4 separate regions of the Homo sapiens genome follow, and regions 2, 3 and 4 are each reported to be linked to region 1. The links are microRNA targets in miRTarBase. Many come from high-throughput screens and were not tested one by one. Region 1 holds a microRNA gene; each other region holds the end of a gene's coding sequence.
The links. The annotated mature microRNA hsa-miR-5680 reads GAGAAAUGCUGGACUAAUCUGC and lies in region 1 at 2,372-2,393, shown strand. An mRNA with a match to its seed (bases 2 to 7 or 8) in the 3' UTR can be bound and repressed. Matches are read on the target gene's strand: a 7mer-m8 pairs with bases 2 to 8, a 7mer-A1 pairs with bases 2 to 7 and ends in A, and an 8mer does both.

Region 1 (7,528 bases):
AGGTCTGAGAAACCCCTGACAGCAAACTCTGCTCTTGGTAATACAGTGGCTTAGGTCTGTTATTTTCAAATCAGCCAGAAGTAGGAAAACTTTGAGCGAGCTTGTGTGGTTTCCTTCTGAGAGAGTGAGACCTTGGCTGCCTACTTCTGTGTTTCACCGTAGCTGCCCTACGGAACAGAACATAGACCTTCTTGCGGGGCTAGCGTGTAAGCACAGCAGCACACCAGCCGCCTCGCCTGCGGCCTCCGACAGACCCGCAGGAAGAAACTGACCCTGGCAGGAGCTCTGCAGAGCCAAATGGCATTCTTTCTCCATGCACAAAAGTTAAAGCAAGCATCTGCAGCATTAGAAAAAAAAAAAAAAAACTTGTGTATTTCCTGCGGACAGGGAGACCTCCTGCCCCTCCCGGGCTGATACAACCCACTTTGCACATCCTGCTTCTCTGGGAGCTAAAAATAAATCGGTATGCACTGAAAAACACTCAAACACATCTCCCCAGCACACCCTTCCCAAGTCCTCGAGCGCAAGGGACACGAATCTTTCAGGTCCTGAGTCCAAAATGCAGACCACTTCCTCGTCCGTGTTCAACCAGCGCCTTTCGGCCTCTCCCTTGGCCCCCTCCCCAGACGCCCACGCCCCGCACTCGCCTCCTGTGGCCTTTCCGGGCAGACTCCGCAGGCCCGGGATCCAGCGGGTGCCCCGGCCCCCGGCCCCGGCCCCGGCCCCCGGGGCGGGATGCTCCAGAGGTCCCCGGGCCGCCAGGCTCACCAACGCCCCCTTCTGCCCAGCGCGCCCCATCCCGCCGGCCCCACGCGCCTCTGCGCGGCCCTCTGCAAAGTTGCTCTCTCCTTTTCTGCCGCCCACCCTCAAGGTCTGTAATTTTGTTTTGTTTTCCCTCAGAGGCACTGGGGGAATGACAGAGGAATTGACAGGGTGAACTGCACCCAGGAGGGAGCTGCTGGAACCAGGTTCCCAGAACCGCGCGCTCCTCGAACCCACCCCTGCGCCCGCGGCGCACCGAGCGCACGGGTCCCCCCCAGCAGCCGCCCCCGGCACACCCGCCCCGGCTGCAACTCCGACTCCGCTCTGGCTCCCGAGAAGCGGAGGGAAGGCGCTGCGACTCACCGCCTCGGCCGCTCCCAGCGTCTGTGTCGCTTCGGGCGAGGCGGCGGCAGCAGCGGCAGCGCCTTCCCTCCGCCCGCCTCCCCCTGGACAGCACCGTCGCCAGCCGCGCCCCCCTCCCCAGCCTGGCTCGCCGCCTCCCTCCTCGCGGCCGCAGACCCCCTCTCCACTGCAGCCCCGCAGGCAGCCTCTCCGGCGTGGGCTTCACCGCGGGGTTGCAGGGGGGCCAAGATGAGGCGCGGGATTTGCAGGTGCAGTGGACGCCCCCCCCCTCCCCCGCTTGCCCTGGTGCAGCCTCCGGGCGTGTCCCCACGGTGCCCCATAGTCCTAGCTCACCGCCCAGGCCTCTAGCCAGCCTGCACTGCTACTTTCCAAGGGGTGCCATCTGCTTGCCTCCTCGGGTCCTGGGAGGTCAGATTCAGCCTAGAGCACCTCCTTCCAAGCTTCGATTTGAGGGGGGGTCTGGGGTCCCTGCTCTACCGCAGTGAAGTTCAAGGGAGCCTTGGAAGGCAGTTGAAAAGCTTCTCAGGTGGTGTCCTCTGGACTCTTCATGCCCACAAGGTGGGAGGGGGGCTGCTTTTGTCTAACTAGTGCTTTCTCTACCCAAAGCCTTCTGTAAACTGTCTAGGAAAAGCTTAACAAAAAATCCGGAGGAAGACATCTAAGGGGCCCCTCTCCTGCCCCTCCTTCCTCCCCTCAAATTTTTCATCTCGTGTGGAGATAATGAGAAGCAAAATGTCTTGTCAATTCATTCACCCAATATTTATCGAGTACCTGCTGGCTGCCAGCACCTGTTTCCTGTCTTGCTGTGTCGTCCACTCATGGCCTCTCAAAAAGCCACTGTAACTAACTCCTTGTGCTTGTCAACCCTGGTGACATTTCCAGAACCCGCAGAAGGTCTCAAGAGCAACTCAAATTCATCAATTTAAAAAGTTGCTGCTTAAAAATAACAAGGCTGCAAAGGCACCGTGACCTGGCCTTCCTCGTTGTAATGTTTGCAAAATCTTTTAACATGACTGGTTATAGAAAGGACAGTTACATTGAGGTCCAGACAGCTGCCAACTCTGATTTAAACACCAAGTAAAAGTTTCATCTAATCAAAAGCACCCTTTCCTAGCTCTACCGGTTGCCTTCAATTGTAAAACAAAAATTATCTAGGAGGCTGTTAAACCATCATCAAATACTAAAACCTTTGCTTGCATTGGGTTAGCAGGTTAGCCCAGCATTTCCCTTCCTGGACACACAGGAGGAGAAATGCTGGACTAATCTGCTAATCCAATGCAAGCAAAAATTTGCATTGGAAAGTTGGATTTTTTGGTTTTTGGTTTTTTCTTTTTTCTTAATACTAGGCCCGACCCCGAGAGAATCTAATCTAATTGTTAAAAAAAAAAAAAATCCGGGGTTCAGGGGTGTCCAGCTTTGTATGGGTATTTTTTTCACATGGGCCCCAGGAGACTCTGATGTGTGGCCAGGGTTGGAAACCACCATAGGATTAGCCAATCATCAAGCAGGGCCTAAGGGAACGTCCCGTTGATACAGCAAAAGGTCTGCACAGGTGTTGCAAACTCAAATGTCCCTGAAGGATAAAAGCAGGTGACAAAGAAGTAACTTAAGTGGTTATACAGGGACAAACTGAGAAGGGCACAATGGCCCTGAAAAAGGCAGCCTCATTTTTCTACGTGGGAAAAGAGGGTCCAGTGTGGCCATCAAGTCGGGGTATTTTATTTTATTTTGGTTTGGTTCCCCCTGCCCCCAAGAGAAGCCAGAAGTTCACGTTTAATGTGAACTCTTCTAATTTAAAAATATTAGTAACTTATTTTTTAAATATTTTAAAAAATTTTAAATATTTTTTAAATATTTCTCTATAAGCCAAGAAAATAAGAATTTGTAGGCCACAAGTGGTCCCCTGGTCATCGGTTCGTCACCTGTAGTCTGGACAGATTCTGTGCATAGGAAGCAGTTAGGAAGGTGCTTGGGGTGGGATTCCTCAGAGAGAGAGGTGATTTTAAAGTCCACTTTATCTACTTTTCTTTATTGATGTGATTTTTCTTTAATGATCTCTACTGTTAAAAAAAAAACAGTTTTGCTGAGGTATAATTCACACATCATACTATTCACTCAAAATATGCAATTTAATATTTTTTGCATATGCAGTTAGTTGTACAAACTATTACCATAGCCAATTTTAGAACTGATTTTCATCACCCCATAAAGAAATCCCACACCTATTAGCACTCATTCCCTTCTTTCCCCAACCCCCAACTTCCAGTGACCACTTATCTATTTTCTCTCTATGTAGATTTGCCAATTCTGGACATTTTATATAAATGGAATCATACAATTTGAGGACTTTGTGACTGGCTTCTTTCACTCAGCTTAATGTTATCAAGGCTGTCTCATGTTGTAGCATGCATCAGTACTTTGTTCCTCTTTATGAACAAACGATGTCATTGTATAGCTCTATCACATTTTGATTATCCATTTATCAGTTGACAGACATTTAGGTTGTTTCACTTTTTTACTATTGTGGATAATGCTACTATGAACATTTCTGTTCGAGTTTTTGTGTGGATGTACATTTTCATTTTTCTTGGGTATATATATAAATTGCCAGATCACATGGTAACTCCACGTTGAACATTTTGAGAAATTGCCATACCTTTTCCCAAACCAGCTGCACCATTCTACATTCCCACCAGCACTATATGAAGGTTCCAGATTTCTTCCATATCCTCGCCAACACTTGTTATTTGCCACTGAAAAAATCATACCATCCTAGTGGAGGTACAATGGTATCTCTTTTTTTAAATTTTTCTTTAAGTTCTGGGATACATGTGCAGAATGTGCAGGTTTGTTACATAGGTATACATGTGCCATGGTGGTTTGCTGCACCCATCAACCCATCATCTAGGTTTTAAGCCCCACATGCATTAGGTATTTGTCCTAATGCTCTCCATCCCCTTGCTCCCCAACCCCCACAACCGACAGGCCCTGGTGTGTGTTGTTCCCTCCCTGTGTCCGTGTGTTCCATGTGTTCTCATAGAGTGGTATCTTATAACATTTGATTTCCATTTTCCTAATGGCTCATGGTGTTGGTCATCTTCATGTGTGTATTGGCCATAACTTCTTCAGAGAAATGTCTATTCAGATCCTTTGCCCATTTTAAATTTGGTTATTTATCATTTTATTATCCAGGTGTGAGAATTTTTTTATATACTCTGGATATAAGTCCCTTATCAGATCTATGATTTGTCAGTATTTCCTCCATTTCTGTGGCTTGCCTTTTTATTTTCTTGGTGCTGTCCTTTGACGCATAAAAGTTTTCCATTTTGATGAAACACAAATTATCTGTCTTTTCTTTTGATGCTTGTACTTTTAGTGTCATACCTAAAAGGCTTTGCCTAATTCAAGAACATAAAGATTTATGTCTGAATGTTGGGCCCTGCTTTTTTTTTTTTAAGATGGAGTTTCACTCTTGTTGCCCAGGCTGGAGTGCAATGGCATGATCTCGGATCACTGCAACCTCCGCCTCCCAGGTTCAAGTGATTCTCCTGCCTCAGCTTCCTGAGTAGCTGGGATTACAGGTGCCCGCCACCATGCCCAGCTAATTTTTGTATTTTTAGTAGAGACAGGGTTTCACCATGTTGGCCAGGCTGGTCTTGAATTCCTGACCTCAGGTGATCCACCCGCCTTGGCCTCCCAAAGTGCTGGGATTACAGGAGTGAGCCACCCCTCCTGGCCGGGCCCTGCTTTTTTAAACGCTCTTTCAACAGTGTGGTATTGAAAACTGGGAACACTGAGACAACCGGCAGTAAGTCTACATTCAGAGCCTCCCACCTCAAGAGGTCTCATTTGCTGGGACAGTTCTCTCACCACCTCATTTGGTCAACTTTGGGCACTGACTGGCAAGTTTGTGTCAAGCAAGCAACTGAATGTATAGATTTTAGACTAGCCAGTCCAACAATGGCAAGTATTCATTCTAAGGGCCTCCTGTGTGCTTAGAGCTGCTCCAGGCTCTCAGGATATAGCACTAAACAAGACAGACAGGTTCATGCTCTTGTGGGCCTTAAAGTTTAATGAGAGAAAAATAAATAGAGCACATAAGACATATATTAGATGAGTGCCTATGTCAGTAATTCACATAGAATGATTGATGGAACAGCTGAGGAAGGAGCCAGGCAGGGGAAACACAGTGCAAAGGCTCTAACTTGGGGGTAGGTTGGGGGGAAATACACAGCTTATTCTGGAATCCAGGAAATCAGATGTGCTAGAGCTTGGTGGGGGTGCCTTTGGCTGAACTCCCCGCAAGCAGAGCCTGAGCAAAAGTTTAGGCATGAACAGTGCGTAAGGAAGTGAAATCACAGGGGAGTAGGACTGAGAGAAAAGGGAAGTGAGTCAGGAGAAGAGGGAGAGCAACTACAAGGAAGTGCATTCCGTGGCTGGGCATTGCCTCTCGAGTCTGCAGGAGCACCAAGGGTTGGTCAGGAGGCAGTATGGGGGCATTACTGAGAGTTTAGGAGGGATCCAAGAGAAAGGCACTGATCTATGGTCTTCAGAGAAACAATGTAATGCTTCTGAAGTTCCAAACATCTGTCGGCAGTGGAGGAAGACTACTGGTGTGGTTGGAAGAAAGAAAACTTACTAGCAGGCTCCCTTCTCCCGTTAGTCAATTTAGTCTCCCATTAGTTAACTTAGCCCTCCTAGGTTGCATTTGAGTGGCCACAAAGTAGCTGCCTGGACAACATCAGGGAAGTCCCAAGGTGGAAGGCAAGGCATATGACAGGAGGTGAGGCACTGCTGGGCTGGCTGTACCTGAGAGCGCCCTGAGGGACTGGGAGCAGCAGCCACAGTGAGCACCTCAATCCGAAGTAGTAGCAGAAGTAGCAGCAACCCGGCCCCCTGAACACAGTGATAGTACAGACCACTGCTGGGTTTGCTCTAGCAAATTGGTGCATTATCATCTATCTTAGAGGATGCATAAAATGAGCTTAATACAGTGGCCAGAAGGGAGAGTAAAAAACAAGGTCACAGAGTGCCAGGGCCAGACCATGGACTGTTTCGCAACCTGGGATCAAGAACATAAAATTTACTCTCAGTTGGAATTTATTCTAAGAACAATGCAAAGTCATTGAAGGCTCCTTTGAAATGTATTTTTTTTAATTGACAAACAATAAAATTCACTTTCTTAATAAGCAGTTCTGCTTGTTTTAATAAATGCACGGTTGAGTAGCCATCATTTCTATCAGAATTCAGAGCACTGTCACCCCTCCAAAAATGTTACTGCCCATTGTAGTGAAGCCTTTGCCCTAACCCTAGCCCCTGGCAATCACTGATGTGTTCTTTGCCTCCGTGGTTCTTTCTTTTCAAGAACGTCAGATCAATGAATCATATAGTATGTAGCCTTTCAAGTCTGGCTTCACTTAGCATGAAGCATGTGTTATTCATTTGTGTTGTTAAGTACATCAATGATTTATTCCTTTTTATGGTATGAATGTACCATAGGTTGTTATTCATTCACCAGTTGAAGGAAAGTTAGGTTATTTCCAGTTTGGGGCAATTATTAATAAAGCTACTAAAATAATTGCCTACAGTTTTTTCTGTGAATACAAGCTGTTATTCCATTTGGTCAAATATATAGGACTGGCATTGCTAGATCCCATGGTAAGTGTATAACTATGATATATATAGCTAAACTATATATATCAAAAAGACAGAAAATAACAGATGCTGGCAAGGATGGGGAGAAAAGGGGAATGCTAATACACTGCTGGTGGAAATATAAATTAGTACAACCACTATGGAAAACTGCATGGAGGTTCCTCAAAAAATGAAAAATAGAACTACTATATGATCCAGCTGCTGGGAACATATCCAAAAAAAAGGAAATCAGTAAATCAAAGAGATACTTACACTCCTATATTTACTGCAACACCATTTCACAATAGCCAAGGTATGGAATCGACCCAAGTGTCTGTCAATGGATCAATGAATAAAGAAAATGTGGTATATATACACAATAAAATATTATTCAGCCAAAAAAAAGAATGAAATATTGTCATTTGTAGCAATGTAGGTGGAATTGGAGAACATTATGCTAGGTGAACTAAGCCAGACACAGAAAGACAAATACCACATGTTCTCACTTATATGTGGAATCTAAAGCAATCAAACTCATAGAAGTGGAGAGTAGATGGTGGTTACCAGAGCTGGGAAGGGGAGGAGTATGAAAGGAGGCTGGTTAATAGGTACAAAAACACACTTAGATAGAAGTAATAAGTTCTAGTGTTCGATAGCACAGTAGGGTGACTATAGTTAACAATAATTTATTATATATTTCAAAATCATTAGAAGAGAAGATTTGAAATGTTCCCAACACAAAGAAATGATAAATGTTTGAGGTGATGAA
Region 2 (7,478 bases), not on the chromosome of region 1:
AGTCCGGAGGGCCTGTCCTGCTGTGGGTTCTCCATCACCAGCTCCCTTCTCATGGGGATTGGAGTCTAGAAGAAGATGCAAGTCAGTCTCCTCTTGCTAACAACATGCCCTGGGCACAGAGCCATCATTTTCTCCCAGAGCCAGTCTCTTGTCCCTGGAGGCACCTCATGCCCCGAGAGATGTTGAAGCCCGCCCATCTGCCCAGGGTCCTCTCCCTTCCCCTCCGTCACCTCCACCTCCCCTGCCTCCTGCGCCCTCTGTTTGTATTTTATGACTCTATAAACCCTTTTAAATGGCCCAGAACAAACAGGGCTTACATAGTGGCCTCTTCATTTCTCCTATTGCCAGTTAAACGCTTTGTCTTCAACAATGACAAACAATGTTTTCCCCCTAAGATAAATTAATTACATTATCCTGATTGGAGGGCAGGAGGGGCCAGGGCGGGAGAGGGAATAGAAAAAAAGGCAACTTCACACACATCTTAACAAACAGCTGCCCCAGCCACCCCAGCTCTGCCTGAATTAATTGAACCCAGTGTGTGTTGTTATTGTTAATTTACATTTTTCTTTGTTTTGAATCTGGTTTACAGGCTGAAGGAATATCATCGTCTCCAGAGCAAGGTCACTGCCAAATAGACCCGTGTACAATGAGGAGCTGGGGCCTCCTCAATTTGCAGATCCCCCAAGTACAGGCGCTAATTGTTGTGATAATTTGTAATTGTGACTTGTTCTCCCCGGCTGGCAGCGTAGTGGGGCTGCCAGGCCCCAGCTTTGTTCCCTGGTCCCCCTGAAGCCTGCAAACGTTGTCATCGAAGGGAAGGGTGGGGGGCAGCTGCGGTGGGGAGCTATAAAAATGACAATTAAAAGAGACACTAGTCTTTTATTTCTAGTGAGTGTGTGTGTGTGTGTGTGTGTGTGTGTGTGTGTGTGTGTGTGTGTAGTTAATTATGGTTTTCTTAGGCCAACCTTTGTGTTTTCGGACCTAAGTGCTGCCGAAGGCCGCCATTTGCCAGACAGCCTGTTAATCTGGCAGTCGACCCCTCTCCAGCAAAAACTAGGAATCCAGAAGTGCCGCCTGGGTCCGATCCTAGCCAGCATCCTGGGAATCTGTCACCAACTGTGGTCCTGTGGCAAATGTCAGGAAACCAAATAAAATTCAGGGAATGCCCTTTGGGGGCATCAACGCACAGCCCTTTCTCTGGACATCACTTTTACTCACAGCCCACAGGGAGCTTCTATAGAGGGTGGCCATGAGTGACCCTAGGACACTTACCACAGCTGCATGGCCTAAAGCAGCCTAAATCATGAAGGAGGAGGGAGAGGCCTGAGCAGAGAGGAGAAAAGAGCAAGCCCGGAACTTGGCAGCATTTCTCATTGTCCACAAACCAGGCCCTAAAGCAGCCATGTTTGTAGTGTGGCCCTGGCCCCCCTTGGTCATATCTGATTGGACCGTGGATGGACACCTGACTCGAGCTGGCCAATCAGAACCCGCAGGAATTGGGCCTCGGCACGTGGCCGAAGTGAGGACATGTAACACAGGCACTCACCGCTGGGATGCTGTGGACCTGGGGCACAGAGCAGGTGTAGAAGGAAAGGAGAGGGAAGAGATGGGAAGAGAGGGTCATGGTATTGGCGTCCATATTTCTGTACTGGTGCTTCATGAAAGCTGGTGGCATCTCTTGGCCTGGTTTCCCTGACACCTGATATCATAACGAATTCAGGACTCCAGCTCAGTGAGAGAGTTTCTGCTCCTTGCAACCAAAAGCATCTTCACTGGGAAGACTTGAGTGCCGCTTGCTCTGTGCTTTGCCCTGGTTCTGAACTCAGAACCTGACCTCAGGGATCGCTTCGCCACTCCGCTGCCTGTGTCCATGAGGGTTTCTCGCAAAAGAAGTTTTACCTTTAAAACTTATTTTCCTCTGATTATTAATGTCCGTGGTAATAATAAATGACTCAATATTAGCTTTGTGCCAAACACTTCGCTACACACTTTATTCACATTATCTCATTGAATCTTCAAAACCACACTTGGAGGTGGACACTTTCATCTCCATAATGTAGAGGTAGCAACGAAGCTGCAGATAAACTGACTTGCCAAAAGCCACTGAGCTAGCAAGTGACAGAACCAAGAACCAAACCCCGGCCTGGCTGAGTCCCCAAATCTTGTGCGTTTGTCTTGTTGTTGTTGTTAAGATGGAGTCTCGCTCTGTCACTCGGGCTGGAATGCAGTAGCGCAATCTCGGCTCACTGCAACTTCCGCCTCCCAGGTTCAAGCGATTCTCCTGCCTCAGCCTTCTGAGTAGCTGGGATTACAGACGCCCACCACCACGCCTGGTTAATTTTTGTATTTTTGGTAGAGACGGAGTTTCATCATGTTGGTCAGGCTGGTCTCGAACTCCTGATGTCAGGTGATTCACCCACCTCCGGCCTCCCAGAGTGCTGGGATTACAGGCGTGAGCCACTGCACCTGGCCATTATGTCTTTAACCATAGTGATAAGCTGCATCTTTAAGAAAAGAAATAACTAGCCAGGCACGGAGGCTCTCCCCTTTAATCCCAAAACTTTGGGAGGCCGAGGCGGGTGGATCACAAGGCTACGAGTTCAAGACCAGCCAGTTTGAGACCAGCCTGGCCTCGGCCTCCCAGAGTGCTGGGATTACAGGCAGGAGCCACGACGCCCAGCCACATTTGGTATATTATCAGTCATATGTCTTTTTCTTTTCTTTTTTTGTTTTTTGGCTAAACATCCTATAATGCACATATATTTTTTCCTATGCTTACAATATTTTTGCAGTTATTTAGGCTAAAGTATAAATGCTTTATATTTTATAGTTATAAATGTATACTTTATACTTTAAAGTATAAACTTTAGCCGGGCACGGTGGCTCATGCCTGTAATCCCAACACTTTGGGAGGCCGAGGCAGGCGGATCATGAGGTCAGGAGATTGAGACTGTCCTGGCTAACACGGTGAAACCCCGTCTCTACTAAAAATACAAAAAATTAGCCGGACACGGTGGTGGGCACCTGTAGTCCCAGCTACTCAGGAGGCTGAGGCAGGAGAATGGTGTAAACCTGGGAGGCAGAGCTTGCAGTGAGCCAAGATTGCGCCACTGCACTCCAGCCTGGGTGACAGAGCGAGACTCCGTCTCAAAAAATAATAATAATAAAGTATAAACTTTATATATTTATGCTTTAATGTATATACTTTGCACCCTATTTTTAAAATTTTAACATATCATAAATGCTTTCCTATAACATTTAAAAACTCAATCCTTAAGCCTGGGCGCAGAGGTTCATGCCTATAATCCCAGCACTTTGGGAGGCCGAGGTGGGTGGATCGCTTGAGTGCAGGAGTTTAAGACCAGCCTGACCAACATAGCGAGACCCCATCTCCATAAAATAAATAAATAAATAAATTTTTAAAACTCCTTAAACATTTTCAGCGATTACATAATATTTTGTTAACATTGATACTCCCTAACTTAACCTTTCCCCATTTATATATTTAGTTCTCTCCATATTCTAAATTATTTTTCTGCCTTTTGTTGAATTTATCTTTTATATTTTAAATAAATAGAGATGGAGTCTCACTATGTTGCCCAGGCTGGCCTCAAACTCCTGGGCTCAAGTGATTCACCTGCCTCAGCCTCCCAAAGTGCTGGGATTACAGGCATGAGCCACCATGCCCAGCCCTTTTGTTGAATTTAATGGAATGTTTTTAAGAATTGGTTATTAGCTATACTTAATTATTAGTTATGGCTTTTTTAGTGCCCTCTCTGAGAGTTATTTTATATATCTTTAACTTACCACAGTCTACCTTCAATTAATAGTATGCCACCTCGAGTGTAACATAAGAACTCTGCGACAGTACGAGCCTAGAACATTTCACTTTATGCTTTTGTTGTCATACATATGCTACAAAATCCCATAATACATTGCTATTATTTTTGCTTTAGACAGTCAAATATCACTTTTAAAAGATTAAAAATAAAAATAAAAAAAAGATTTTAAAAGATGAAAAATAATGGTGGGCCATGCCTATAATCCTAGCACTTTGGGAGGCCAAGGTAGGAGGATTGCTTAAGCCCAGGGATTCAAGACCAGCCTGGGCAACATAGGGAGACCCCATCTTTACAAAAAATTTTAAAATTAGCCAAGTGTGGTAGCACATGCTGGTGGTTCCAGCTACTCAGGAGACTGAGGTGGGAGGATCGCATGAGCCTGGGAGGTAGAGACTGCAGTGAGGTGTGATCACAGCACTGTACCCTAGGCTGGGCAACATCTCAAGACTCTGTCTCAAAAAATAAAAATAAACAGCTGAGATTGCACCGCTGCACTCCAGCCTGGGTGACAGAATGAGACTCTGCCTCAAAAAATCATAATAATAATAAATAAAGATTAAAAATAAGAAAAGAGTTTATCTTATATTTATCCATATATTTCTTTTTCTGATGCCCTTCATTCCATTGAATAGACAAAGTTTCTATATATATCATTTTCCTTCTGTTGAAGAACTTTTAAAAGTATTTCTTCTAGTGCAGTGATTAATTCTTTCAGTTTTTTTTGTTTTTGTTTTTGTTTTTTGAGACAGAAGCTCACTCTGTTACCCAGGCTGGTGTGCAGTGGCGTGATTTCCGCTCACCCCAACCTCTGCCTCTTGGGTTCAAGCGATTCTCCTGCCTCGGCCTCCCGAGTAGCTGGGATTACAGGCCCCCACCACCACGCTGGCAAATTTTTGTGTTTTTTAGTAGAGATGGAGTTTCACCATTTGGCCAGGCTGGTATCAAACTCCTGACCTCAAACGACCCATCCACCTCAGCCTCCCAAAGTGCTGGGATTATAGGCATGAGCCACCCCACCAGGCCCAGCTTTTATTTCTTTGAAAAAATTTTATTAACATTTACAAGTAGGTCCTTGCTCCATTTCGAGTTCATTACTGTGTAGGTTGTGATTCAGGATCAAAGTTTATTTTTTGAAAATACTGATGTTTTGCTGTTCCAGCACCGTTTCTTAAAAAGTCTTTTTCCTATTATATTACCTTAGCATCTTTGTCAAAAATCAATTGATTAGGCCAGGCATGGTGGCTCACCCCTGTAATCCCAGCACTTTGGGAGGCCAACGTAGGCAGATCACCTGAGGTCAACAGTTGGAGACCAGCCTGGCCAACATGGTGAAACCCCATCTCTGCTGAAAATATAAAAATTAGCCGGCCATGGTGGCGCAAGCCTGTAGTCCCAGCTGCTTGGGAGGCTGAGGCATGAGAATCACTTGAACACGGAAGGCAGTGGTTGCAGTGAGCCAAGATCGCACCACTGCACTCCACCCTGGGCAACAGAGCGAGACTCCGTCTCAAGAAAACAACAACAACAACAATCAGTTGATGGGTATGGGTCTACTTCTGGACTCTCAATTCTGCTTCATTAATGTATGTGTCTAGCCTTACGCCAAAAACTCTCTGACTTGCTTATTATAGCCTATAGTAAATCTTTTTTTTTTTTCTGATTTATTTATTTATTTATTTATTTATTGATCATTCTTGGGTGTTTCTCGCAGAGGGGGATTTGGCAGGGTCACAGGACAATAGTGGAGGGAAGGTCAGCAGATAAACAAGTGAACAAAGGTCTCTGGTTTTCCTAGGCAGAGGACCCTGCGGCCTTCCGCAGTGTTTGTGTCCCTGGGTACTTGAGATTAGGGAGTGGTGATGACTCTTAACGAGCATGCTGCCTTCAAGCGTCTGTTTAACAAAGCACATCTTGCACCGCCCTTAATCCATTTAACCCTAAGTGGACACAGCACATGTTTCAGAGAGCACAGGGTTGGGGGTAAGGTCACCGATCAACAGGATCCCAAGGCAGAAGAATTTTTCTTAGTACAGAACAAAATGAAAAGTCTCCCATGTCTACCTCTTTCTACACAGACACGGCAACCATCCGATTTCTCAATCTTTTCCCCACGTTTCCCCCCTTTCTATTCCACAAAATTGCCATTGTCATCATGGCCCGTTCTCAATGAGCTGTTGGGTACACCTCCCAGACGGGGTCGTGGCCGGGCAGAGGGGCTCCTCACTTCCCAGTAGGGGCGGCCGGGCAGAGGCGCCCCTCACCTCCCGGATGGGGCGGCTGGCCGGGCGGGGGGCTGACCCCCCCCCACCTCCCTCCCGGACGGGGCGGCTGGCCAGGCGGGGGGCTGACCCCCCCACCTCCCTCCCGGATGGGGTGGCTGCCGGGCGGAGACGCTCCTCACTTCCCAGACGGGGTGGCTGCCGGGCGGAGGGGCTCCTCACTTCTCAGACGGGGCGGCTGCTGGGCGGAGGGGCTCCTCACTTCTCAGACAGGGCGGTTGCCAGGCAGAGGGTCTCCTCACTTAGACGGGGCGGCCGGGCAGAGACGCTCCTCACTTCCTAGATGGGAAGGCGGCCGGGAAGAGGCGCTCCTCACTTCCTAGATGGGGTGGCGGCTGGGCAGAGACGCTCCTCACTTTCCAGACTGGGCAGCCAGGCAGAGGGGCTCCTCACATCCCAGACGATGGGCGGCCAGGCAGAGATGCTCCTCACTTCCCAGACGGGGTGGCGGCGGGGCAGAGGCTGCACTCTCGGCACTTTGGGAGGCCAAGGCAGGCTGCTGGGAGGTGGATGTTGTAGCGAGCCGAGATCACGCCACTGCACTCCAGCCTGGGCACCATTGAGCACTGAGTGAAGGAGACTCCGTCTGCAATCCCAGCACCTCGGGAGGCCGAGGCTGGCGGATCACTCGCGGTTAGGAGCTGGAGACCAGCCCGGCCAACACAGCGAAACCCCGTCTCCACCAAAAAAATACGAAAACCAGTCAGGCGTGGCGGCGCGCGCCTGCAATTGCAGGCACTAGGCAGGCTGAGGCAGGAGAATCAGGCAGGGAGGTTGCAGTGAGCCGAGATGGCAGCAGTACAGTCCAGCTTCGGCTCGGCATCAGAGGGAGACCGTGGAAAGAGGGGAGAGGGAGAGGGACAGGGAGAGGGACAGGGAGAGGGAGAGGGAGAGGGAGAGGGAAAAAAAAAAGCGCCTATAGTAAATCTTAAACCTCATTCTTTTAAGACTGTTTTGGCTATTCTGAGTCCTTTACTTTTCCATATACTTTTTTTTTTTTTTTTTGAGACAGTCTCCATCTGTCACCCAGGCTGGAGTGCAGCAGTGGTGCCGTCTTGCCTCACTGCAGCCTCCGCCTTTTGGGTTCAACCAATTCTCCGGCCTCAGCCACCTGAGTAGCTGGGATTACAGGTGTGCACCACCATATCCAGCTAATTTTTGTATTTTTAATAGAGACGGGGTTTCACCACGTTGGCCAGGCTGGTCTCGAACTCCTGACCTCAAGTGATCCACTCACCTCGGCCTCCCAAAGTGCTGGGATTACAGGCGTGAGCCACCTGCCCAGCCCATATATGTGTGTGTGTGTGTGTGTGTGTGTGTGTGTGTATATATATATATATATATATATATATACACT
Region 3 (7,528 bases), not on the chromosome of region 1:
TGGCCAGGCTGGTCTCAAACTCCTGACCTCAGGTGATCCACCTGCCTCAGCCTCCCAAAGTGCTGGGATTACAGGCGTGAGTCACTGTGCCAGGCCCTATATTTATATGTTTGAGACAGGGTCTCACTCTGTCACCCAAGCTGGAGTGCAGTGGCGCAATCTCAGCTCACTGCAACCTCCACTTCCTGGGTTCAAGCAATTCTCCCGCGTCAATCTCCCAAGTAGCTAGGACTATACAGGCGCATGCCACCACACCCGGCTAATTTTTGTATATTTTGGTAGAGACAGGGTTTCACCATGTTGGCCAGGCTGGTCTCGAATTCCTGACCTCAGGCGATCCGCCTGCCTCGGCCTCCCAAAGTGCTGGGATTACAGGCATGAGCCACTGCACCTGGCCTGGAAGACTAGTTTAGAAACAGTCACTGATGAAAGTTAGAGTTAGAACCACATTGGAAATGACCATTTGGGTATTTTAATCTCATAGACACCGTTCTGAAGCTCCAGGCCCATAGTCATGGATACATGCTTCACAGTGGTGCTTAGGTCTCAGAAACTGAACATTCAGCCCCACTGGGAATTGACCCTGACACTCATTATCAGGTGTCCAGAGGAGAAAACTCTCCTAAGTAGACATCTACTTTTTAAGATTCTATGAATTGAGACGATAACATCAAGTATATACCACTCTCTCCAAAAGCTTTCTGATCCCTGAGCAGAAAGCTGACTTATATTTAGACTTATATCTCATCTTATGTTTATAATGTGTATCTGAAAATTCCAGGGTCTGAATTCTTTGTGGGTATGGTTCTGTTTATTTGTGCTGACTCTTGCTCAGGACATTCCAGTACTGTGATTTTTGCTGACAGTTCACGTTCACTGGAACTTTATGGGGATTTTTGAAGCTTGTGTTGGGGTAACCCTTCTCTCTCTGGTGAGGATTTGTGCTGACTACCATGCCCTACAAACCTAGGTCAAAGTTAAATTTGCCCCATGTAACCTTTTTAGATATGCAGGTAACTTGAACTCGGACTCCAAACTGGCATGAGGACTGGCTCTTAGCCACACATTCTCAGAAGAGACTCTTTCCTCCAACCTGAGCCAAGGCAAGATACACACATTGCTCTGCTCTCTGCTTTTTCAGATAAATATCAGTTTTTCTTTTGGGGGGGATGGAGTTTCACTCTTGTTGCCCAGGGTGGAGTGTAATGGTGTGATCTCAGCTCACCGCAACCTCTGCCTCCCGGGTTCAAGCAATTCTCCTGCCTCAGCCTCCCGAGTAGCTGGGATTACAGGCACCCACCACCACGCCCGGCCCTTTTTTTTTTTTTTTTTTTTGTATTTTTAGTAGAGACAGGGTTTCTCTCTGTTGGTCAGGATGGTCTCGAACTCCCAACCTCAGATGATCCACCCGCCTCGGCCTCCCAGAGTGCTGGGATTACAGGTGTGAGCAAATATCATTTTTTCTAATTCACCCTTTCTCTGAGGGCAAAACTCTTTATGGTTCTTGGTTTAGGGGAATCTTCATTCTAACTCCCTGGTTTGAGCCCTAAGCTTTTCTCCTGGCCTATGTGCCACCTTCTTAAAACTAGAATCCGGCCAGACATGGTGGCGCAAGCATATAATGCAAGCACTTTGGGAGGCAAAGGCAGGTGGATTACTTGAGCTCAGGAGTTTGAGACCAGCCTGGGCAACACAGTGAGACCTCATCTCTACTAAAAATCAAAAAAATTAGCTAGGCATGGTGGCACAAGTCTGTAATCCCAGCTACTTTCAGAAGGCTGAGGTGGGAGGATCACTTGAGCACAGGAGATCAAGGCTGCAGTGAGTTTGATCACGCCACTGCACTCCAACCTGGACAACAGAGCGTGATTCTGACTCAAAAAAATATAATAATGGCTAGGCGTGGTGGCTCATGCCTGTAATCCTAGCACTTTGGGAGGCCGAGGCAGGCGGATCATGAGGTCAGGAGATCAAGACCATCCTGGCTGACACGGTGAAACCCCGTCTCTACTAAAAATATGAAAACAAAATTAGCCGGGCATGGTGGCAGGCGCCTGTAGTCCCAGCTACTCCAGAGGCTGAGGTGGGAGAATGGTGTGAACCTGGCAGGCGGAGCTTGCAGTGAGCCAAGATCGCACCACTGCACTCCAGCCTGGGTGACAGAGCGAGACTCTGTCTCAAAAATATATATATAATAATAATAATAAGAAGAAGAAGACTAGAACTCTGGGCCACCTGGGCTTAGTAGATACTCTTAGGGGCAACTGATACCCTAAGCACTTGCTTACCTCCCTAGCTGCAGACTTACTTTGGTCTGGCTCCAGAAGATTTCTTTTTGCAAACTAAATAATATGTTTTGGCCGGGTGCAGTGGTCTGTAATCCCAGCACTTTGGGAGGCCGAGGTGGGTGGATCACCTGAGGTCAGGAGTTTTGAGACCAGCCTGGCCAACATAGCTGAAACCCCATCTCTACTAAAAATACAAAAATTAGCCAGGTGTGGTTGTGGGCACCTGTAATCCCAGCTACTCAGGAGGTTGAGGCAGGAGAACCGCTTGAACCCAGGAAGCGGAGGTTGCAGTGAGCCGAGATCATGCCATTGCACTCCAGCCTGGGCAACAAGAGTGAAACTCCGTCCCAAATAAATAAATGAAATATTTTTAAAGGTGTTCTTGTTTAACATTCTAACAGGCTTCATATCAAAGTAAATACTTTCTAAAATTGAGTCTGCCATATTGCCAAAAAATAGAAGTCTACAAATTCTATCTCTTCCTAGCCGTCTCACAAATCCAAAACTTCAGTAGTTACTGATTCCAGTACCATATCTAATTTTCCTTCAACATTTTTCTTTAATGACACTACCTCCCATCCACCTATTTACAACAAAAAATTGAGCAAAGCTCCTTCCTCCCTCAAGCGTTCACATCTTAGTATAACTCTCATTGATTCTAAGTTCTAAATATTTCTTAAATTTGTTCTCTCCTTCATTCTAGCTACAATTGCCTTCACAATTCATTATTTCTTTTCTGGGTCACTAAAATAATCTGTTTCCATGCTTACCTCCCACAAATCCATTCTTTACATAGCTGTCAGCAAAACCTATTTAAAATAAAAATTGGATCATGCCGTTTGCATAATTAAGTCTTCAGTAACTCCATATTGCTGTCAAGATAAAGTCGCAGGCCAGGCACAGTGGCTCACGCCTGAAATCCCAGCCCTTTGGGAGGCGGAGGTGGGTGAATCACTTGAGGCCAGGAGTTTGAGACCAGCCTGGGCAACAGAGCAAGACCCCATCTCTACAAAAAATACAAAAATTAGCCAGGGATGGTGGCATGTGCCTGTAGTCCCAGCTACTCAAGAGGCTGAGGTGGGAGGATGTCTTGAGTATGGGAGGCAGAGGTTGCAGTGAGCCAAGATCGCGCCACTACATTCCAGCCTGGGCCACAGAGTCAGACTCTGTCTCAAAAAAAAAAAAAAAAAGATAAAGTTTCAATTACTTATCGTGGCATATAAGGTCCTCTACAATCAGTCCCTCCCTGTGCTGGGTCATACCAAACTACATATCATCTTTTGCTTGATCTGCCATCCTCCAGTCAACCCTACACCTCATCCCAGCTTCCCCAGCCACTGTCAGCTCCTTATCTTTCAAAACCCAGGTTACAAATCTTCTCTTCCAGGAAACTTGCAGGCAAATCCTTACTGCACCCTTTGTTACATCACAGCGCATGACGTGCTTCACCATCACTGCACTTACTACACCGTATTGCAGTCATTCTTCTGTTGCCCCAATTAGACTATGAATTCCCTTCAAAGGCAGGTAAAATTTTATCGTTATCCACAGTACCTGGCACAGTGCTGATTACATGAGGTACTTAGTATCTATCAAATGAATGAATTAATGTTTTTGACTTCTACAATACCTTTTGAGATTGACTCCTACTTCCACTGCTACTCTCAAAGTTCAGGCCCTTTATTCTGTCTCTATCCCCTCACATGTCCTTCTACCTCTAGCTTATTAACCCACCTAATGGTACCCAAATTATTTCTAAAGCACAGTTCTGATCATGTCCTGCTTACCGTCAGAAACTACTATTGCTGTTAGCCCTTGGATTTTTTTTTTTTTTAAAGAGACAAGATTTCACTCTGTCACCTAAGCTGGAGTGCGGTGGTATGATCATAGCTCATTGTAACCTCAAACTCCTGGGCTCAAACAATTCTCCCACCTCGGCCTCCCAAGTAGCTAGAACTACAGGCACATGCCACTGCCAGTGATGCCCGGCTAATCTTTTTTTTGTTTTATTGTATTTTTGTAGAGACAGGGTCTTGCTATGTTGCCCACGCTGGTTTTAAACTCCTGGCCTCAAGCAATCCTACTGCCTCAGCCTCCCAAAGTGCTGGGATTACAGGCATGAGCCACAGCACCCTTCCGGAATCTTGCCTCATTTTCCAGCAGCTCACAGCAACCTACTGACTTCCCAAAGACAGCTCAGCTCCATCCTAATGACCAAACCAGCAGGGACATGGGGCAGGCAGTGCCCAACCAGCCTCCACTCCAACTTCGTTCACCATCTAATGAAGCTTATTAGCACTAGACAGCCTTGTATATCTAGGATCTGATGGTACTAGAGATAGCTATGGATTCCCATATTATCCAGAGTCACTGCCATCCCCATTTTGACTTTATGGAAGACTCCATTTCATCACTCCACTCTACAGCAGCAGTATACTGAGAGCTAGGGAAGGGAAGGAATGACACTACAAGGTGGGGAGGGGATCGTCTATAGAGAATTTTAAAACAATAAAATTGACTTTTAGTCCATTTGTTTTTTATCATCATCAAGCATCAGCAATTCTAAACAATGTCAGAATATTGTTTATATATTCTCTCCCACCAGGGTGGACTGGTCCCACCACCACTATCTGTTGGTGTGCCACTGCTATTCAGGCATCACCCTCTTTTGAAACCTTTTACCCACCCCAAAACAGAATTAATCACCTCTTCCTAAACCCTAATGCACACTTGAGTCTCTACAAGACCACAGGCACATCAAGGAGAGCATGTCTTTAACCCCTAGTACACATTCATAAACACATACTCTTCCTTTGCCTCAGCTTCCCAGTAAGGTCCTTGGTGAGTAAAATGTGCTTAGTCCCAGTTACTCTATATTGATAGAAGACAGCATCATGCCTTACACTCAACTCTTAGACCAGACTAAATACACATAGAACATAATATGAATTCCAAAGGCTGGTATTCACAGAACACCATAATCTGGACATAGTTCTTATTCCTAAATACTAAACCTTATACTCTGTTTATACCAAATTACTTATACACTTGGTATTTTTCTGCCTATTACAAGTCCTTTTTGTTTTCCAGTACTTTGTGTCTGATTTACCTAACTGCTAAGCCCCAGAAGAAAATTTAAACACTCAATTTTGGCTGGGCGGGGTGGCTCATGCCTGTAATCCCAGCACTCTGGGAGGCCAAGATGGGTGGATCACGAGGTCAGCAGTTCGAGACCATCCTTGCTAACACGGTGAAACCCCATGTCCACTGAAAATACAAAATATTAGCTGGGCGTGGTGGTGGGTGCCTGTAATCCCAGTTACTCGGGGGGCTGAGGCAGGAGAATGACATGAACCTGGGAGGCGGAGCTTGCAGTGCTCCGAGATCACGCCACTGCACTCCAACCTGGGTGACAGAGTGCGACTCCGTCTCAAAAAAAAAAAAAAACCCAATTTTGTTTTCATGCTGTGGATGCAATGGACACCTAATTCTAATGAATAAAACTACTGATAGCTAATATATAAAAGCATAGAAGACACTTTTATTATATAACATTTTATTTAAAAAAATTATTTTCATAGAATACATTTTCACATTAGAGATTCCCATTGTGCGAAAATAACAATTTATTACTTATAGTTTTATATTTGTGGACAGATTGTTTTAGAACAAGTAGAATACATTTGGGAATTAAATCTCAATTTACAGTTGGTAGTATTTTGATACATCTACAGGGAAACTTGCCCTTAAATGGAACTTCTGTATATTCAGAAGCACTCCAAGCGTTTCTTCCTAGGATTTAGAAATTTATAATATGAGCTATCAGCATTTCCTAATTTTAAAATTTCCCTAGTATATGTAACCATCAGTAGGTGGTATCTACTGTCTAGAGAGGGAAGTTTTCGAAAATTAAACACTGTCTAATTTTCTGCAAAGTTTTTATTCATGAATTAAGAGTATTTCCCTTTGTCCATTATTCCCAAGGCAAATATGGAAGTTTGATCATATACTAATCGTAATAAAGTTGGATTCTCTTTAAGAGATTGATAAATTGAAAGGCAAAAGCTGATATATCATGTTTAGTTATACTGTGAGTCTTATAAGAAGCTGGGAGGCAACCCCATTAACTCACCAGAATATAGAACTCAGTCTCACAACTTAGATATAATTCCTCTCAAACCTTTTCCTCAAAGATTAAATTCTGAAAATAATCTTGTGATTAAGAGAAGAAGGCTGTCCACCAATGGACTTATCTGTTATTTCTTCCTTATTGTGAGCTTAATGGCATGACAAAGCAGAGGCAAAGAGGCATACATCAATTCTTCAAAGTATGAAGTCAAAAAGGTCAGAGCTTCCACAGCATGGCAACAGCTTTGCAGATGCCCACATCGTGATAGTTGAAATAGCAAAGCCCAGCAAAGGTTAAAGCTGAAAGTGCCAAAAGCCCTGCCTTGGCAGCTTTCTGCAAGGCATCCCCATGAACATAGTCAGTAACAACTTGTCCAAGGCCCCTAAAGAAAAAGAAAAAATCATAACATCAATAAAAAACCACAGTGAAATTAGAAGACTATACAGATAACTTGGCTGCAAAAAAACAATCTGTCAAGTTCAAATGCAATGTCTCCATTTGCCACTCCACTGTCACTGTTTGCTTCTTTAGGGGATTCTGTATAGCCTTTTGCGTGTGTATGTCAGTAAGTCTATTTCTAGTGACTTTTCTTTAGAGACAAAGTCTTACTCTGTTGCCCACGCTGGAGTGCAGTGGCCTGATCATAGCTCACTACAGCCTCGAACTCCTGAGCTCAAGTGATCCTCCTGCCTCAGCCTCCCAAGTAGCTGGGACTATAGGAGCATGCCTCCATGCCCGGCTAATTGTTTTTTATTTCCTTCTATTTATTTATTTATTTATTTATTTATTGAGACAGAGTCTCGCTCTTTTGCCCAGGCTGGAGTGCAGTGGCACGATCTCGGCTCACTACAACCTCCGCCTCCCGGGTTCAAGTGATTCTCCTGCCCCAGCCTCCCAAGTAGCTGGGACTACAGGCGCCCACCACCACACCCAGCTAATTTTTGTATTTTTAGTAGAGACAGGGTTTCACCATATTGGCCAGGCTGGTCTCGAACTCCTGACCTTGTGATCCGCCCACCTCAGCCTCCCAAAGTGTTGGGACTACAGGCGTGAGCTACTGCGCCTGGCCTGTTTTTTATTTCTTTAAAGATGCGGTCTCACCATGATGCCC
Region 4 (7,528 bases), not on the chromosome of region 1:
GTAGCACAAGGGTACGGAAGGATTGTCACGTAGGAAGCGAAATGAAGTTATTTCTGAGAGAAGCAATGGGCAGCCAGCTCAGCCATGCAGCCTTCGTGTCTGTCCCTCTTCCCTCCGCTGCCCCACTTACATCATCCGACTTCTGCCATTGAAGCTCAAGCCCTTGAAGCACCATAAATTATTAAGTCAACAACTTAGAATGCATGCCTGCAGATTAGACTCCGTATTGCTTCCAGGGAATTCAGATATTTGAAGAAATAAATGGCTTTAGTAGCTGATATACTTGCAAAAAAATGCGATTTATTTGTTTTTTAAGTAACTGACAAGAGTCTGATATATTTTCACCGTAGACTATAAAAGATGCGCCAGGCTTCTTACCCGGCTGGCTGTCAGTCCAGTGTGCATGGAGGATAAGGTAAGCTTGGACAGACACACACTGGAGCACATACCAAAGATGGGAATCCCGCTTGGGACATGAAAAATTCATGGGAGTTTAGGAACACTCATTCTTTGGCTGAAGTAGCCATATTCTAAGTAGAGATGGCACAACACTCATCTCACAGTGCTGAAAGCCACCCTACTGGCTTGTCTACAGGGCCCCGGCAGCTGTTGTTAACTGCTCACTGCATGGCACACGGGCACTAAGTGGGTCCTGCTCTGAAACACAGCAAGTCAGCCAGTGTCAGCATGTGACTGAGTGCGTAAGTCAGGAACAGACTAAAATTGTCCGTTTACTTCGAGGCATTCATTCATTCACTAACACAAGTGAGTAGATGACCAACATTGTCCCTGCAAATTCAGATTATCACATCTGGTACATGTTTGAGTTGTAGTCATAAGCTCATAAAGAACAGCTATCCTCTTTAAATGTTTCTATCAATGGTTTTTTTTTTTCACAGCCTCTAATAGTAAAAATGTAAATGCATACCACGTTTATGAACTAAACTTTGCACCTTGGCCCCTTGAGGGCTGATATGCAACATTTAACACCAACCATCAGCGGATGTTTTGAAGGGTAAGGTTTTATTTTCCTGACACAAATGCCACAGAATCCAGTCACTTTAGACAGCAGGATGCAACTGTAATTTCACCAATTTTATACTTACTATGTGTCTTGTATATGTGGGCACTGCCAGATGCTGGCTACACCAGCACAAGAAAGACAGGCTTCCTGTCCATTGATAGCTGTCCGGAGCACATTCATGAAAAGGGAGTATTTTTATAGTGGTTACTCTAGTTTCTCTCATGTAAAATGGATGAGGGTAGGGTAGTGCTCTTTCCTATATAGATGTGCTCTCTATGCAGAGGCAGTGCTTATGAATATTTAGGTAGCAGCAGAAGGGTTGTGTGCATGACCCCAACACCGGCAGGAGGCATGGCGGGTCCTGCCCATGCATCCCCCACTCCATCTTTCCCAGTAGAAGAAACTGCTGCTAATGAGAGGAATGGCACTGGGGGAGGGAGGCCAGTGGGTAATGGCGGGTTGAGACTGCATTTTGCACAGTTTCACTGCACTTTTTCTTTGGAGATAGTGAAGGTGTCAATGTCAGTCAAAGCTGGGAAGTGCTGTGTAGTAATGTCTCCCCACATCCCTGCTCTTTCCAATTCTCTCGAGCAGCTCATCCACTGCCTATGTGTCACACAGACTTTCTTCTGTTTAAATCAGTGAACAGATGTACATTCCTGTCACCCAAGGTGATATGCCAGGGGAGATGAGAATTTTTTTTTTTTTTTAGGTATTTCTTTATAATTAAACACAGTGTTCCCAGAGATGGGCCAGGGACATCCTTGGAAATTTTCCACTTACTTACAAGTGAGGAGAGCAAATTCCCCACTGTCTCAGCCACTGGAAGAGCTACTCCGTCCACATGCCCATTAGCCGACCCCTGCCTCCCCTCCGCTGGCTGCTGCTGGAGGCAGGTGCAGTTACACTGAAGGACGTGGTCATGTCAGTGGGACTCAGGCTCCTGTATGGGTCTCTGCGTGCGCACGTCCTGCTTTGCAAACGCCACAGTGATGCCCTGCAGAAAAGCTGTGGCAGAATCCCCTTGATAGTCCCCAGCACTCTTCACATCACTCTCCCCATCACCAGACAACCACATCAGAGCCTGACTGACGATGAGATGCAGGTAAAGGTAACAAGACAAGGCCCAGGCTCGCAAGCTTCTGTCCCCAAAAGGCCACCTGCTTGACAGCCACAGGTGTCACAGCTGTAACTGGGTTCATTTTGGCCAAGAGATAGGTAAAGTTTAAAATATTGATACCCTGTTAACTATAATTTCATAACTCCTATTTTTTAAAGATAATTTCTTCAAATTCCAAAAGTTTTAAACAGCAACAGCAAATTGTTACTGGTGTTAACAAATTGTTAAACAGCAACAGCAAACTCTTACTGTGGCTGGTCACCACAGTGTAGATACAGTCCGGGCTTTCTCTGTGCTTTGCAGACCTCAGTGAGACACCAGAGGGCAGGGCAGGTGTCCCAGGGTGCCCACACTCGTGTGACGGTGTGGCATCAGGCAGGCCCTGCAGTCCCAGTTCTGCTGGTTAACCTGCCACATGCACTTCTGTCCTGACACACAAGGATGGCAGGGCAAGACCGTAAACCATGACCTTGTCTTTGTAAAGAAAGGCCCAGAGCCTGAGAAAAGCAGGCCTTTAGCAGGAAGGGCTCTGCCCTCCTCACCTCAGAGCAAATCCATTTGCCGCGTTCTGAAGCTCATTAATAGACCTCCTCAGGCCAAAGAGAACAATGTCCCCACCAACCCTCCCTAACAGTCACAGATACACTTCATTGTCCGGACTTACAGGTCAGTTAATCAGAAGCCTGAGCTCTGGAATATTGTCAAAGAAATGGAGTTTTGAGTAGTGAGTACATGGTGTACTCTCCCAAATGCAGCCTAATCTTAGTAACCTTGAAGTTTATCATTCTTTAAAAATAAATAGAATACCAATGGTTTAGATATTCCAACAAAGAATGCTAGAAACAAATGTCTAATCTCGATTATTAGCTTTACCAACCCTGTGAACACTGAGGTTGCAGAACTGCCAGGTTAATCCCTGTGGCCTAGACTACTGAGGATTCTGATAGCACATGTAAGACTAAGCACTCTTCAAGCTGTAATAAAGCATCCACATGTATCTGTGATGATTTTCATTGCTTTAGCATTGCAGCCATGTAACAACTGCAGAAAGAAGGTATTTTTAAAAATACAATAGACTACACTTTTTGGATCACAGAGAAATACAGATGCACTCTGAGACTGCCTATGTTTATAAACATGTTGTGTCCCCTAACTGAAGTGACAGGTCTTCTGGAATTGACATTAAGAAGTGTGGATAGTCATATCACACGCAATGTATTTGTTTTCAGCAGTGAGCAGACCGTACAGGAGCAGCACACCAGGAGCCATGAGAAGTGCCTTGGAAACCAACAGGGAAACAGAACTATCTTTATACACATCCCCTCATGGACAAGAGATTTATTTTTGCAGACAGACTCTTCCATAAGTCCTTTGAGTTTTGTATGTTGTTGACAGTTTGCAGATATATATTCGATAAATCAGTGTACTTGACAGTGTTATCTGTCACTTATTTAAAAAAAAAACACAAAAGGAATGCTCCACATTTGACGTGTAGTGCTATAAAACACAGAATATTTCATTGTCTTCATTAGGTGAAATCGCAAAAAATATTTCTTTAGAAACATAAGCAGAATCTTAAAGTATATTTTCATATAACATAATTTGATATTCTGTATTACTTTCACTGTTAAATTCTCAGAGTATTATTTGGAACGGCATGAAAAATTAAAATTTCGGTCATGTTTTAGAGACAGTGGAGTGTAAATCTGTGGCTAATTCTGTTGGTCGTTTGTATTATAAATGTAAAATAGTATTCCAGCTATTGTGCAATATGTAAATAGTGTAAATAAACACAAGTAATAAATGAAGTGTTTGTTATAATGACTAGTCTTCAAAGTGACTCTCTACCTCTTTAACAGGTTCACTGTTGGGAATTCGTGACTTCTGATTTACTGAGAGATCATGACACTGGCAAAAGGTCATAGAATATGAAAGCCATAAACAAATGAAAACTTGAAGCCTAAGAATTTCTCTAAGGGATAATTAGCATTTTTTTTAAAGTAAAGGCTACTATATATTGGTGACATAATTTCCTAAGATAGTCCCTGATTTGCTGGGAAATATTCCAAATAAGGTTGTATCCATTATTTCCCAAGCGATTTTGTAATCATGAAAATGCTTAACTAGGAGAAACCTTAAGACTTCTAAGCAGTCTCAGAATTTTAGATGTAGATGTATTTTAAACAAATCTAATTGGATCCAATTTAAAAAGCTGAATTCGGCAAAGCAATGAGTTTCTCCATTCATATGAGCCCTTGTCGGCAGATGGTATCGTCTGGGTGTAGCCATAAGGACAGAATAGTCAAGAGTCCTAGGATTTGTTTGAGGATCTGTATTTATAGAGATAAACATTAAAGAAAAACTATAGGATTTTATTTCCAAACATAAAGGAATAGAAGAGTAAGAAATTTTGACTTTGAGATTAAAAGCAATTACTGAATGAAGAGAACAGGGTGTAACTTTTGAAGTGCTCTTATTTAATCCTGTTTTCTAATTACAGCTCATTACTTGACCTTTCCTTCCCCATTTTTTATGTTTTAAGGATTTCATGTTCAAATATCCAATCTATTAATATTTAATCCCCTCAGTTTTCTGTATGTCTGAGTAATTCCAACAAGAGCAAGACTCACTGGGTTTGCAAACTTTCTTCCTATGAAGACAGCCTGGCACTTCCACATGGTACAGTGGGGAAACTACTCACTTTCATCTGGCAACAGCTTATCCTCCAGATACTAGGGAGTCAAGGATCAAACGTGTCTCCTCCCCATGGCACTGCCTGGGACCCTCATGATACTGAGGTCAGGAGTGCAGATGTCCTGGCCAGGCAGCTGTGCATCACTGCACAGGAGGGCACAGCGTAGAGGCAACATGTCCAGAGGATGGTACTGGGCAAGGACAGTTCCAGCTGTAGAACCTCAAACTTCCTTCAGAAACTAGACATGATGACATGGGGCAGCAATGTGCTTATTTTCATCATTTTACTTCCTTATCCTGAAGATAAAATATGCACACCTAACATCACAGATCATGTAAAAAGGACAATACAATGTTTTCAAATGCTTCCTTACCTGTCAATAAAAAAACAGGCAGACACCAGATTTATATCTCTAGTTGTATTTTTATAACTCCCCAGTTTATTTTGAAATATTCATGATTTTGACATTATCTCAAAATACACAGAAATTACCTTACATCTGCCTATACATTTATTAAATGCTGATGAAGAATACTTATTCAATATTTAAGCATGCCAAATAATAACACTTTTCCCAACTTTTAAAATTATTTTAAAAAATAAGCCAATTTATATTGGACATTTGGGTTACATGTGCATATAAAAACAGTCATATTCCTCAACTGACCATAGACTAGCATACAAGTGTCCTTCTTTCTGGATGTAATTAAGTTTCAGAGGCAAAGTGGTTCAGATGGGAGCCAATGGGCTGACCTCCTCATGAAGTAAACTCGACAAAAATCATGAAGTATTGAAGGTGCCAACGACTGATTCCATAAATGTTTCTCTCTTCCCTATCTTTTCAATATACAAGTGTGCACTATGGGTGTGTAGAAATTAAAACACTTCTAATCTAGACTGTGAGCTCCTACGGAGGGGACTACTGTCAATCCACAAAAGGCCCTAGGGAAGAGAGAGGTAGCACTGGGGAGCAGAGGGCACCTGCCCTCCAGGCCATCCACACAAACCTACTGAAGAGGTAGACTCGATTATCTAAGTCTCAACAGGCTTAGATGTTGACCTGGGCCTTCAAGTGAGGTTTTCCTTCATTGTTTTATGTTGCTTGTTCTACTATTTTTGTAACTGGGGCAAAGTGAGATGTTCAACTAGTCTAAGAATGCTTAAAATACCCCATAAGCTGTCTGAATCAAAGATTTTTATTGATTCTCCTGCCAAACACAACTGATTTCCATCTACAATTACTTTTTAAGGTAAGAAACAGTAAGTCAACTGAACAAAGAGCTGGGCTTTGGGCCCTGGAACGTGATTACACACCGACTGAGAAATGCAGGACCTCAGGGTGGGGTCTAGTCAGGCTGGCCGCAGCAGGGCACGAACCTGCCTCAGTGGGCCTTCTCCAAGAACGCTCTGCAGCACCTGACACACTGCTGGTACACCGTCTCAAAGTCAGAGTCATTCCCCTAAATGGACAGGAAAAAGAAGAAAATGGCAAAACCTGCATAACAAAAACATCCTTAACACAATCTCATCTGTTATTTAATATGGCAGGATACAAATGTGTTGGGTCTTCATATTAGCCCTAAAACGTGAACTGTACTTACATAATAGGGATCTTCAATAATAAGTTGTTTTTGTGGATCATAGCTCCCAAGTAGTTCAATTTTAGCTTTGCAGGTTTTAACTTGATTACTTTTTCTATTCAAATCTCTGTAAAATTGAAATATGAACTTAGTTTTCTGATCTATGGTTTCAAGTTAAACAGGGACATCTGCTAGGGTGTTCTGAAACATCCATATCAAAATCAAGACAGAATGACCTAATTTGAAATGAAACGGAACACTCAGCAGGCCCGTGTGGCCCCTTCTGCAGCTGTATGCCACTGCCCTCTCTCTAGGCAAGACAGTTTGCGACAGCAGCTTATTCTCACTGATTCTGTTACACAAAATATACAATAATTATATTTTCTCCCACAAAATACATTTTAAGACAATCAAGTTTCAGAGATAAAGGTCATAGAAAGGAACCCAAAACACCATCTGAACCAGTCCCAAAACAGAGGGCTACCAATTCCATCCTCAGGTGTCTTGACACAGCACTTCCCACAGCACGACCCACTCCTTAATTACTCTTCCATCTTTTATTCCTTAAGCCTCTGCCCAAGCTGAAAACTCAGCTTCACTCTAGACTTCCACCCTTAGCTTTCACATTGCTACAAAAGAAAAAGGCAAACTTAACTAAGCGCCTCCATTTATTTAACAAATTTCGACTGAGCACCTGCGACAGATGAGTTGATGAGTCAGGTACGTGCTTTATGTGGGAACGGAACAGCCAAGAGCTCCCATGCACGAAGTTTTACAGCTCAGGATTAGGTGCAGGAATGAGAACTGCAGGCAGGCCTAAGTCTAATGCACAATCTGGCCTAATGACAGGGCAGCAGAATACCTCTATCAAGAAATGAATTTAAGCTGACCCACGAGGGGCAAATAGGAGCCGAATGACCCAAGAAGCAAGGAGGAGCTTCCAGGCAGAGGAACAGCACGTGCAAATGTGAGGCTGCAGGAACTCCACTTGCCCCACACGCAAAGAAACACGGTGCTCAGTGCCAGTCAAAGCAAATGGGGTCTCCTAAAAAGGTGTTTTTACGATGCCTATGGGCTATGGTGTCAGCAAAAACAATGAGAACAGAATA

Region 2: the mRNA of ASS1 is a reported target of hsa-miR-5680. Seed matches in the 3' UTR shown: 7mer-A1 at 882-888.
Region 3: miRTarBase lists SDHD as a target of hsa-miR-5680. Seed matches in the 3' UTR shown: 7mer-A1 at 6,089-6,095.
Region 4: the mRNA of ACP1 is a reported target of hsa-miR-5680. Seed matches in the 3' UTR shown: 7mer-m8 at 6,160-6,166 and 7mer-A1 at 5,710-5,716.

Annotation. Positions count from the first base shown.
Region 1 is chr8:102,123,112-102,130,639 of GRCh38, forward strand. MIR5680 (microRNA 5680) reads left to right here and starts at 2,321; the gene lies at 2,321-2,404. It also overlaps a transcript of NCALD not described here. RefSeq lists silencers at 606-795, 1,166-1,225.
Region 2 is chr9:130,500,387-130,507,864 of GRCh38, forward strand. ASS1 (argininosuccinate synthase 1) reads left to right here. Exons shown (of 15, transcript NM_054012.4): 15 at 590-888. The coding sequence ends at 635. Among named protein-coding and RNA genes, the nearest start is that of ASS1, 59 kb to the left of the region's middle. RefSeq lists enhancers at 1,276-1,570, 4,760-5,259, 5,443-6,289.
Region 3 is chr11:112,094,076-112,101,603 of GRCh38, reverse strand. It overlaps SDHD (succinate dehydrogenase complex subunit D), which reads right to left. Exons shown (of 4, transcript NM_003002.4): 4 at 5,810-6,799. The coding sequence ends at 6,634. Among named protein-coding and RNA genes, the nearest start is that of SDHD, 11 kb to the right of the region's middle. RefSeq lists a silencer at 1,625-1,833.
Region 4 is chr2:275,998-283,525 of GRCh38, reverse strand. ACP1 (acid phosphatase 1) reads right to left here. Exons shown (of 6, transcript NM_004300.4): 5 at 6,441-6,546; 6 at 5,243-6,299. The coding sequence ends at 6,222. It overlaps ALKAL2 (ALK and LTK ligand 2), which reads left to right. Exons shown (of 6, transcript NM_001002919.3): 5 at 351-415; 6 at 3,374-3,968. The coding sequence ends at 3,379. Among named protein-coding and RNA genes, the nearest start is that of ALKAL2, 8.3 kb to the left of the region's middle.